3 linked regions of the Homo sapiens genome follow. The protein of the gene in region 2 interacts with the protein of the main gene of each other region in a biochemical or structural test. Each region holds a gene or a part of one and is shown on either strand. Other genes may lie near its edges. The genes, in order: PTH2R, PTH and MEP1A.

Region 1 (3,655 bases), on a different chromosome or scaffold from region 2:
AAATATAAAGAAAGGATTCTTTACTATTTAATGCAAATGTACCCTTTACACTTAAATGGTTATTTAAATGTATTAGGTGTACCATGATACATTAAAATGTATCCTTAAAAATGATACATTTTAAATGATTTATAGCATTGTTTTCTTGTACTTTAAAATGACACATTAAATTAGCTCCATGCTACCTGGAAGAACTTAATGACTCACAGTTAGAGATAAATTCCACTTCTAATATGTGTTTATTATTTTAAAATATTTAATTCTGCTATAGAAGATATGGTAACAAATGGGATGCATGAAACCCACAGTTTGCATTAAATATAGATAAGGATGAGTTAGTAGACCACACGTGTGTTAAACCCAGGTACTAAAGACACATGAGGCAACTGAGCTCTAAACATTCATAATATACTAAATATACAAGAGCCATGAACAATCCCTGATACAAAGGAAGTTCTTAATATTTTTGAGGGCATTATCAGCCTCAAAAATATTTTGATTTTGAGGATTCATGGATTGATGGAACTCCTTCCCACATGTCCTTTTCCCAAGGGCCACAAATAAAACCCAGAACTTCTCTGCAGGCTAATTCAGAAGCTACAAATGTAGCCAGTGTACTTGCCTCTCCATCTCTATGAGGAAGTATGTGTCACTGGCCCAGGGCACCAGATTCTGTCTGTAGTTCCCCTTCGTGCTACCTTATCGCAGGTCCTCATAACCACACCATCCTCAGGAAAAGTTGATGTGGCAGAGAGAGAGAGAGAGAGTATGAACACTGCCTATCCTAGGAATCAGGTAGTGTAGTTCTTCAACCTGCTTTCACTAAATCCTAAGTGGATTCTCTTACCCATCTCTTTCCACTTGCTTCTCACATTATATTTTACATTTGTTTCTTAATCTATGGAGGTCAGGCACCTTCATCTAGTCTGCGAGTGTTTCTGCTCTATGACCTCTGGAATAGACAGCTTGCTGGTAATGTGTTGGAAGCTACCATCGCATCAAGGTAATTTTCCTTGTGGCATCCCTAAAAAGCAATGGCATCAAGAACAGAAGCGAGTGTGAATTCTGAGCAGGAAGCCTGAGTCTTGAGAACATCTGAGGTTCTCTCGTTTCCCCTGCCTTTTCACTCACCTCGCATCAGCCAGAGTTGCTCGTGCCACAGCCCATGCTGCAACAAATGCTGCTGGAAACCCTGAAATCAGAAAATGATTCAGAGACTAGATTTATTTTAAGATTAAGGAGGTTTTTTCCTCAAATTCACCATATATAAGAATATACTATTAGCTGTTCAGAGATAAAAATAGACATGAAAATTTCTGATATGTGAACAAGAAAAGTCCACTTAATTTTTAATCATGTCAGTTTGAGAAATTAGCAAGAATATTGATGTTATTTGTTCCTCTAGTCTGAAGATAAAAACTGGCCTAATTTTCATCTGAGGGGTGTAGGGAAAAGCCATATTTGGAGAAGAGTGAAGTTCCTAGGGTTGGAAGTAAGCAATGGTTGGCATTTGACTTTGACTCTTGTCACGCTGACCATCATATGCTCTCAAGGAGTGAAGCAACACAGGGACTCCTGAAAAGCTGAGGGATGCTGTTGTTTTAAAAACTTAGAATTTTTTCATCCTAAAAATGGAAGGCATACTGAGGCAAGTTATAAAAATCAGGAAGTTTTAACCAGTTTAGTCTCTTCTTTTAGTTCACGTTGGCACAAGACAGAAGCATTTTCATGCATTAATAGAAAAGGGTGACCACTATATTTGTCTGATGATTTGAGCGCGAGATATTTGTCCTTCATAAGTGCTAAACACCTTCTGGGCTTGTAACATCAAATCCATTATACCGACTTTCGTTTGCCCCCCAGTAAAAGTTCACTGTCCAGCTCATGTTGTATTTGATTAAACTCTGACATCACACACAAAAAAATCATGAACCATAACTTATATGGAATACTGCAGTAGGGGACTGAAAGACTTAAGAGATGACTTTTCATTATGTGGCCTTTATGAAAGTGGTTTAAATAAAGGATATACAGAAACCATAAGGAAAACATTTTAGAATCTAGGAAGCACCTTACAAAAGGGGAAAACAAAATTTTGGTCTAGCCAAGAACATTTTTTATCAAGCATAACTTTAAATTCTTAACCTTTAAAAAAATTGTAATTTTTTTATATTCTTTCTTAGCAACAAAGTGAACAAAGAAATAGGCTTAGAAAAAGAAAATTTTCAGAAAAAGATGAAAATGATGATATGCACAATAATGTCTTTGGTCTCCTTAGTGACCATCTAACTTAAGTTCAGCCTGCCTATATCACTACTGAATTTTATGATTCTATATTCCAATTTTATTTCTTGTTTCTATAGTATTCTTTCTTTAATCTGCTCAAATTCTGTGTTCTAGGAATTTTTTGTCAAAATAGACCTACCTAATTCTGGTTATTTCTTAGGTTCAGTTTGCATATTCTATCTATCTATCTATCTATCTATTTATCTATCTATCTATCACATTTCTCCATTAATCATTTATTGTCTATTTATGTGTCAAAGATTGTTCTAAATGATATAAATAATGAACAAATAAACAATATCCCTGTTTTCTAAAACTTATATTCTGGTGAAGCAGTCAAAATTAACAAAGCAACTTCAGTTGCTTTTGGTTATGAATTGGTGCTATGAAGAATAAATAAAAGTGATACTATGTAATGGGGAGGGGACAGCTGCTTCTGGTAGGATGATTAGATATAAATCCACCATACAGTCTGGCATAGATTCTACCACATGGCCTGACATAGATCCCTCAGCTGTTCTATCTTGGTTGTCTTCAAAAAGTGTCTGCCTGTCTTTCATCAATTTTCACATCTTATCATTCTTATATCTGCATCTTCTGCTTCCTTTACATTCTTCTGATCAGGTACTTCCTGAATGCTGTTCTATACAGTATTTATTAATGGTGGTTGAGTTGGCATTATGTTTTAGATGATAATTATGTCAAATATCGTACACAGGCATTATGTCTTCATAGAATTGCTTTTCTCACCTTCTTAGAGAATCTTATGCATAAGACTAGCATAGAGACTACCATGGAAGAATGAAGAACAGAAAACTACTTTGGGATCCTTTAAGGATTTTTTATCACGAGTCTTAATATGAATTGTTACATAATTTAGAACACAGAAATAAAGGCAAAAATACTTGACATGTAAATGTTGTTTTAAATTTAAATGTTAAATTAAGTAAATTTAATATAAATTTAAATGTTATCTAGTATGTGCATTTACTGAAAGTTGAGTTATTTTCTTTTTTTTTTTGAGACGGATTCTTGCTCTGTCACCCAGGCTGGAGTGCAGTGGCATGATCCCGGCTCACTGCAAGCTCCGCCTCCCGGGTTCACACCATACTCTTGCCTCAGCCTCCCCAGCAGCTGGGACTGCAGGCGCACGCTGCCACGCCCGGCTAGTAGAGACGGGGTTTCACCATGTTAGCCAGGATTGTCTCGATCTCCTGACCTCATGATCCGCCCACCTCAGCCTCCCAAAGTGGAGTTATTTTCATAAGACACGTCAATACAAAATAAATAAGTTTTGTGAAGACAAAACTTTAAATTAACTTTAAAATAACTACAAATTAAAAATGTTGAATATGATACATATGATCAC
Region 2 (4,228 bases):
CAAACAGTATAAAGAATGTACTCCAATGATATTAAGCGGCAACTACTCACCTGAAAAAGAAAACATTGTCTCTGAAATAATTCCTAATTATACAATTTTGCAAACTAATAAGCACTATAAATATTAAAATGTTAAGACTTCAATGTATAATGTCAATAACATCCTGCCTTTTTAAAATTGCTTAAAACATTTGTTAAAGATCATGCAAAATAAACACTGTATTAAAATGCTAGATTACACTCAAACATCAAGGCAATGAAACACAAAAGAGCAACTATTTAGCACAATGACTGGCCAAGTAAATAACTTAATCAGCATATTAATAAAAATCCACTGAGTGATAAACATCAAAAATGTAACACTGAATCTAGATAATCACGCATCTGCGATCTCACCATCTACCGTCCTAACTGTGACTTGGGGTAAACTGCCAGAATTCATTCTGCATAAATGAGCTATGTTAAAATGTTAGCAACATTTCATTGCATGATGACAGAGTACATTTCTAGTCCACACAGTACTTCAACGTGATCATTCTCTTAACTCAGCTAATAACTAATGGAAAGTACAGTTTTACAGTCATACCACTTATGTATATACATATATTTTACCCTTGCTTTGTTACATGTTTTTAAATTTTTTTTAAAAAAGTATTTCCTTTCTTATGATCCTCCCCCAGAATTAACATGCTGACTTAGGAAAAGACGAAGTAGATAAAGTCTATCCTAGTATAGAGAGCAATGGTTTACTTTTACCTAATTAAATATTTCCTTGTCATTTATCAATTGTCACTGACCTTTTTTATGTAATTATTTCCTCATTCACTCATCTATAAATATTTATTAGTGCCTGTTGTTACCCATGTCTCCTTGATTTTCCAGAAAAATAATTCATGTTTTTTTTTTCTTCTCATTGCTAAGCTCACTTAGAAAAATTAGGCACCATTTAAAAGACTTGGAGAACAGACCAGCGTGGCTTCTTGGGCACAGCTGGATGGTGCTGGAAGCCAGGCCTGGGATTTGGAGAGAAGAGTCTCCAACAGATAAACCCACGGAGGTCACCAGCCCTCCCTGCATCTACTCTCCTAACAGCTCAGGATGGCCCTGTTACACTACTGCCAGCCCTGGTGACTCGCTTTCTTAGCAATTTTTAAAGCCCTCTTCATTATGTACTTCCTACTTAAAATTCAGAACCTCTGTGATAAGCAATGCCTCTGTCATACAGAATGCTGGATCTCAGTTTACTGAGCCTCTCCCTGTAGTGTCACAGGCTGTGCACTCACCTAGATGAGCCCCTAAGAGCAGGGTTTGCTTCTGCTTCATCTAATGCCACATCTTCCCTCAAATGTGTGGTCACCAAATGTTCTGCAAAAAGGGTCTCTAGCTTTTTACTTTTCTTTTTGGCAAATTAAGCCCTTTAAAATACTTCTGACCTATCTTTATACTCAGATCTCACCTCATCTCAAGTTTTATGGGGTAATGCGCCAGTGAAAGGTACAGTGGTATTAGTGAGTTCTGAAGCTTCTAATTACATAGACAATAGAGGCTGGCTGGTGAGCCATGCTTCTCATGCTCCCTTCTGTCACACTGCAGAAATCTTAAGCTACAAGAGGAATGAAAGAGCCTATTTTTGAGAAATCCCCCCGCACTGCATTTTATGTTGATTATACCTAAATGTTTATAACTTGCTTGAAAATGCCTAATTTTCTTCATAGTGTAAATTGTTAACACTATTTACGTAGCAAATCCTTTTCTTAAGTAACCTTCATTTCAGGCATTGTAATAACCATAAATACCAAACTAATAGGTGCTAATCTAGAGATTTTCACTAAATTAATTCACATTTCTCCTAGCATTAAAAATAATGTGTCAAAGCATTTAAAAATCATCTGATTAATTACTTGTGATATGGATTTCGAGCTTTATCTCTGAATGGAATGCTTGTTTGTAGCTTATTTCTTCAACTTATTTTATTAACAATTATCTTTTAATATAACTTTTGTCTCTTTCCTCGTTTCACATCAGTATAGGATATTCTTGCCTTAATCTGCATTTCAGTACTTGCAAAGGCTGTTATTATAGAAGTGCTTTTCCTTAATGCTCAGTGTACTACCTTTTAACATACACATAGAGTAGTTATGTACTCCTATTTTACAGGGAAACTGCATCATTTAGAAATAGCATAGGAAATACTGTTTTCAGAATACAGCTGTCATTTATGTAAAGGAAATAAATATTTACTAGTCAAACTGGGCTTATCCAACTTTAGTATACAGATTGGGCTCTTTATGAGCCATAAAATAAATAATCTAGATAAGAATACTCTGCAGGAAAAACAGAATATTAACTCCACTTAATAAATTTATAAAGATTATTTAAATCAGAACTATTCATTCACCATCAACCTGTTTTATTTCAAAATTTTGACACCGATACTATTATATTAAAGCATAGCATGCCAAATTTTAATGATTTTTTGTTGTAATTTCAGATGAGGTTTTAAAAGGCAAGGTATCTCAGAAGACTTTAATCAAAAAGGATTTTGTGATTTGAGTAGCATTAATTTATTTTGTATGTGGCATTTTATATTAAACATAACTCAAACTTCTTAGCATTTTACCTTGAAGAAACAACATGGTATTTGTAGAAATGGTACACATTAAATAATAACTTGATTATCAAAATCTCATGAGATTCAGAAGTGAATTTTTAAGTTTACTTACCATACAATGTCTTAGAACAAGATCTTCGTTCAGGTATGTTAGTAGCTGATGCTGAGTAAACTAAAGACAACTGATGAATTGGACTGCAGACCCCTTAAATGGTGACTTTTATATATAGGTCTTCTGCTTACCAAGAGAGGCTCTTTTATTGTTACAGATGATGTCACTCCCAATTCTCTGGATCTCAACTATAGGTTCAAAGCAGCACATACACACACCCATTGGGCGGTGCACACTCTTCTTAAGTTTCAGATAATTGGATACTAAAAGGAAAACAGCATTTGGCTTGACAAGGGGCTTATGCAAAGACTTTTAACAAATACAGAATTATACCATCGAGAAAAATTCTATGTGGATTAATGAATCTGAATTTATACTGTAAAAAGACTGATTTCAAAGGTTTATGATAAAGTCATTATCTTACTTGAAAATAAAACCCAAAAATAAGTGTATTTGTTATAACCGTACTGTTGGTACAGTTTTTATGGTAATAAATCATAAATGTTAGGCTTACTTTACAAGCCATTTTCAACCAATCCATGTCACTTCTGGTCATCTTTCAAAAAACAGATATAGCCCTTTTCTTAAAGGAAGTGTTAAGAATAATTTGAGAAAATGCTCTTAGTACATAATTACTTTAAAAGCTTCAAAAGTGAAATTATTTTAAAATTTATTTAACTTATATTTTATTTGTGCATCTTAATCTATAATAATAACATTTGATAAGCACTAACTGCATGCCTAACTACATATATTATCCCACTAGATCTTCACAGCAGTCCTTTAAAGTTAGTACTTAAAGTACTAAAGTTAAGTGCTTATCCCCATTTTTACATGAGGAAACTTAGGCTTGGAAAGCAGAAAAGATGGAATTCAACAAAGGTCTTTATGACACCAGATTCTTACTACCTCAGTTTCTGCCTAGAAATACAGCCCTTCTTTGAACTCCAGTCTTCTTGACTTTAATTTGCAAAGTCATCTGAAAACACAGCAAAAGCTCTTTGCAACATTTTCCCCTAGGGGTTAGGTCTTTATTCTCATGTTCCCTAAGGGATGATGAGAGCCTGCTCCAAAACCTATTGGAGGCATGATGCTGCCACATGTCTGACTTCAAATATTCCTCCAGCAATATTTTCCTGGTCCACCTGTCAAAACACCCTGAATGTCTTTGATATATCTAGGACTCCTTTAGACAGCTTTGCCTTCCCACCAAAGATCCGGTGCCAGAGTGGGATCAGTTCTCTCAGCTCTGGTCCCATCCTGGCTTCATGTCATCCTTTTTCCTACTAGCCATTGTCAAGGTTTGACTCTACCTTAGGTAAGAGCCAGTACAAATTTGAATAGTAACCGTATGGAGTTTATAATGAGAGATATATACTAGTCCTGTCCTAGGAGATTCTCCACTCTGGGTTAACCTCACTTAGAGTGTTGCTCCAGGCTCCATTTTAGAAGCAGTAGAAACAAATGGGAACATACACTGAGGATATCAATCAGTTTGGTGAAAAT
Region 3 (3,655 bases), on a different chromosome or scaffold from region 2:
GGATGAGGTAGGAGAGTAAACTCATCTTACTGCATGTGTTTTATTGCTTGAGGTTTTTGCAGGTCATATAAATGGAGATAACCAATAGTAGTTAGATAGTTTATTTTTCTGTAAAGGGGAAACATTTAAAGTATATCTCAGGCCTTGCAAAGACCACACATTTTAGGGCCTCTCTGCTTTTGACTACTGCATTTTGTCCCTTGGCAATCTCTGACCTTCAAGGAAGTGCTAAAACCCTTAATTTTTCATTGAAAACGTCAGAGAAACAATTAACTTTATTAACAAATTTATTTCCATTCTTCAGCTACCACTTTTGCATCATTCTTTTTTCACAAAGAAACTCCTTAAAAATAAAACAAAATCCACATAATTACTTTCCAAAATTCTCACTTTCACAGTGAAGTTCTCCCAACTTCTTTTTTTGTTTTCAAGTGAGTCCCAACTACTTGATTAAGGGGTAGGTCAGCTTTGAGAGACATTCTTTGTAAAAGCACTGAATCTGGGAAACCTAATCACCTATGGCCAGGAGATGTCTCTGTTACAGATAATTTAAGAGAGGGAAAAAGAGAGGAAGATATTTTGGGAAGGGACTGGCCCAAAGTGCCCCTAAGCCCTTCAGGGCACTGGTCTCCTGAAGTTGGAGGCTAACTGGGACTCTTTCAGAAAGACAAGGTCAAAAGTTCTCAGTGAGGTGGAATGTATGGTATTTTTGCAACTTATGTCTTTCTGTTGGGGGAGGAATTTAAAAAGAAAGATGAATAATAAATGCTTTCTCTGAGTTGTGAATATTTTGCAGAGTAAACTCTGATTTGGTAATAAAATGCCACTATCAGAGAGGCAAGTTGATCATGGTTACATTTGCATAACACTGTAAATTTACTAAAAGTCATTGAATTGTATACTTAAAATTAAAGAATTTTATAGTATATAAATTATACCTTAATAAAGTTATTAGAAAATAAATAACTAAGATTCATCTTTGAGTAAAAATCAAATCTGTTAGCCTTTGAAGGTATACTGTGTCAGTAGTCTTGGGGAGAACATTGGCAGGTAAGACACTGTGACTGTCACCATGAAACTTGCAATCCATTGGTTGCATTTATGACTATCAGGAAATCTTTCTTTTCTGCTCAGCATTGGGTAAAATATAGATCTTCATTTGACAATTTAAAGCCAATAGGAGACAATTTGTGGAAAGCTTTGGGTTTGCTAATAGAGGTGAAAAATTGGGTTTATGAGAAGAGAAAAAATAATTGGGGGGAGAATGAAAGAGGAAGACATTCTACCGTAAGGAATTCAGGGAATCTGACAGAGGTTCCCGAGCCCACTGATTTCAGAGGGACGCTACAGGTCCTCCTTGCCTGATACCCTTCAGAAATAAGTTAGGCAGCCTTCTCTGTGCTGTCATAACACTGTAGATCTGCTATTTCCGAAGACATGGATTTTATTAATTTGCTTTTTAATGAGGATCTTTTTATGATCATAAAATATATGCTTGTTCATTATAGGAACTTTGAAAATTTATTAAAGTATAAAAGGGCTAGGTGCGATGGCTCACACCTGTAATCCTAGCATTTTGGGAGGTCAAGGAGGGCAAATCGTTTGAGCCCAGGAGTTTGAGACCAGGCTGGGCAACATGGCAAAACCCTGTCTCTACAAAAAAATAAAAACATTATCTGCCTGTGGTTCCAAGTCCCAGCCTCTCAGGAGGCTGAGGTGGGAAGATCACCTGAGTAGAGGAGGCTGAGGCTGCTGTGAGCTGTGATTGTGGCACTGCACAGCAACCTGAGTGATAAAGTGAGACCCCCAATCTCAAAAAAATTAAATCAACCACAGCTTTCCCTCAGACAACAATTTTTTAGATAAAGGCAACAGTGTTATTCTTTGGAGTGCCCTGTGGGTTTGTGGAGGTGAGAAGGAATGCCAATGTTTATTGCTTTCTACCTTGACGAATTGTTATAATAGGATTGATTTGCTTCTGAGTATGTGCCACTTTTATAATGTATTATATCTTCACTTTTAAAGCCTGCACAGTATTCCCTCTAGGGAATGCTCCTTCTTTAAGCAGTCCCCATCTTTGGACCATTAGCATATGAGAATGCTGTTGGTAATTTCTTTCTAAAATCAAGCCTAATTTCCTCCTAATTTGTGTTTTGGAGTACTGTGAATGACAGCCACTTAAAAATTCTCTAGAAGAAATTTTTCCTCTTCTCCTCTTTAAAGGTGCTGGTCTGAGGTTGGTGACCAACATGTGGGACAGAACATTTCCATTGGCCAAGGATGTGCCTATAAGGCCATCATAGAACACGAGATCCTGCATGCTTTGGGATTTTACCACGAGCAGTCAAGGACGGACCGGGATGATTATGTGAACATCTGGTGGGACCAAATTCTTTCAGGTGTGATTGGGCGGAGATTGCTATCACATTTATCACTGGCTGAGACCAATCCTGAGATGACCAAGCCAAATCTGTGTGGACAGGAGCTTCAGCCTCTCTAGTGGGAAGAAAGACTCTGAAGAGGTTATGATTTGTTGGCCCTTTATGTGGGCTGTGCTGGTCTGACCGGAATTCATCGCAGATAAGGGCCTCAAGGAATGGTGTTAACTCACTGTGGGGGTCAACTGAAAGTTAACCAGAAGCTTTGCTTTATATCAGTGTTTTCATTAAAACTCTATCTAAAACTCTACTTTCCTGTCTTACTGAGGAAAGTGAATCCAGATTTTAAAGTCATTTCTCTGGATGTGAAATCTCCTGTGCCTCTAGAAGGCTGTTTGAGGTTTAGTTGATTATTCCATGACTATAGGGCATACTCAAGAAGTATTTTTTCCAGTTGCTTTACCAAATCAATAAAAAATGTTTAAAAACAAAAACAAAAATAAATGCTTTTATCTGAAATAACACCCCAATTATGTTAATTCTAGCTAGTTATCTGGGTTCTGATTAATCAAAGGTGAATGTTTTTTTCTTCCTTGTTTCTAAGCACCTTGCTTCTTCTGCCTCCACCTCATACAATGCAAAATACAACAGTTTTGTCTTACGTATTATTCCGTTGTATTATTTTAACTATTTCATTGTTCTTTAGGTTGTTTTGTTTTGTTTTGAGACAGAGTTTTGCTCTTGTGGCCCAGGCTGGAGTGCAATGGTGCGATCTCAGCTCACTGCAACCTCTGCCTCCTGAGTTCAAGCGATTCTCCTGCCTCAGGGAGGCAGATGGGATTATAGGTGTGTGTCACCATGCCTGGCTAATTCTGTATTTTTTAAGTAGAGATGGGATTTCATCATGTTGGTTAGGCTGGTCTTGAACTCCTGACCTCAGGTGATCGGCCTGCCTTGGCCTCCCAAAGTGCTGGGATTACAGGCATGAGCCACCACCGTGTCCGGCCCTTACTTTCCTTAATTGTTTGAGACAATGAAGTAGAGTGCTTTTGAGTACACTAAAACATTTATTGAGCAGCTTCCTGATGTGGTAGAAAAAAAAAAAGTCAATGCTGTGTTTCTGAAGATACCTAGTTTTTAAGAAGGAATTAGTGAAGAGAATGCAAAAACATTGTTTTTGGCAGTAAGAGATTAATGAAACTTTAATATATTTAAAATGCCTTAACTGTTTCCGGCATGGCTTTTATAAAACAAATAATAGCCTTGTGTAGGTATCT

Evidence for each region.
Region 1: the proteins of PTH (region 2) and PTH2R form a complex in vitro, tested with the Homo sapiens proteins (one study listed by BioGRID).
Region 3: of the proteins of PTH (region 2) and MEP1A, one has a biochemical effect on the other in vitro, tested with the Homo sapiens proteins (one study listed by BioGRID).

Annotation. Positions count from the first base shown.
Region 1 is NC_000002.12:208,448,286-208,451,940, reverse strand, and holds part of PTH2R (parathyroid hormone 2 receptor isoform 1 precursor), read right to left. Parts: intron 1,193-3,655; coding exon 1,132-1,192; intron 1-1,131. UniProt on the Homo sapiens protein: This is a specific receptor for parathyroid hormone. The activity of this receptor is mediated by G proteins which activate adenylyl cyclase. PTH2R may be responsible for PTH effects in a number of physiological systems.
Region 2 is NC_000011.10:13,493,189-13,497,416, forward strand, and holds the start of PTH (parathyroid hormone isoform 1 preproprotein), read right to left. Parts: upstream 2,810-4,228; 5' UTR 2,723-2,809; intron 1-2,722. UniProt on the Homo sapiens protein: Parathyroid hormone elevates calcium level by dissolving the salts in bone and preventing their renal excretion. Acts by binding to its receptor, PTH1R, activating G protein-coupled receptor signaling.
Region 3 is NC_000006.12:46,817,306-46,820,960, forward strand, and holds part of MEP1A (meprin A subunit alpha precursor), read left to right. Parts: intron 1-2,223; coding exon 2,224-2,399; intron 2,400-3,655.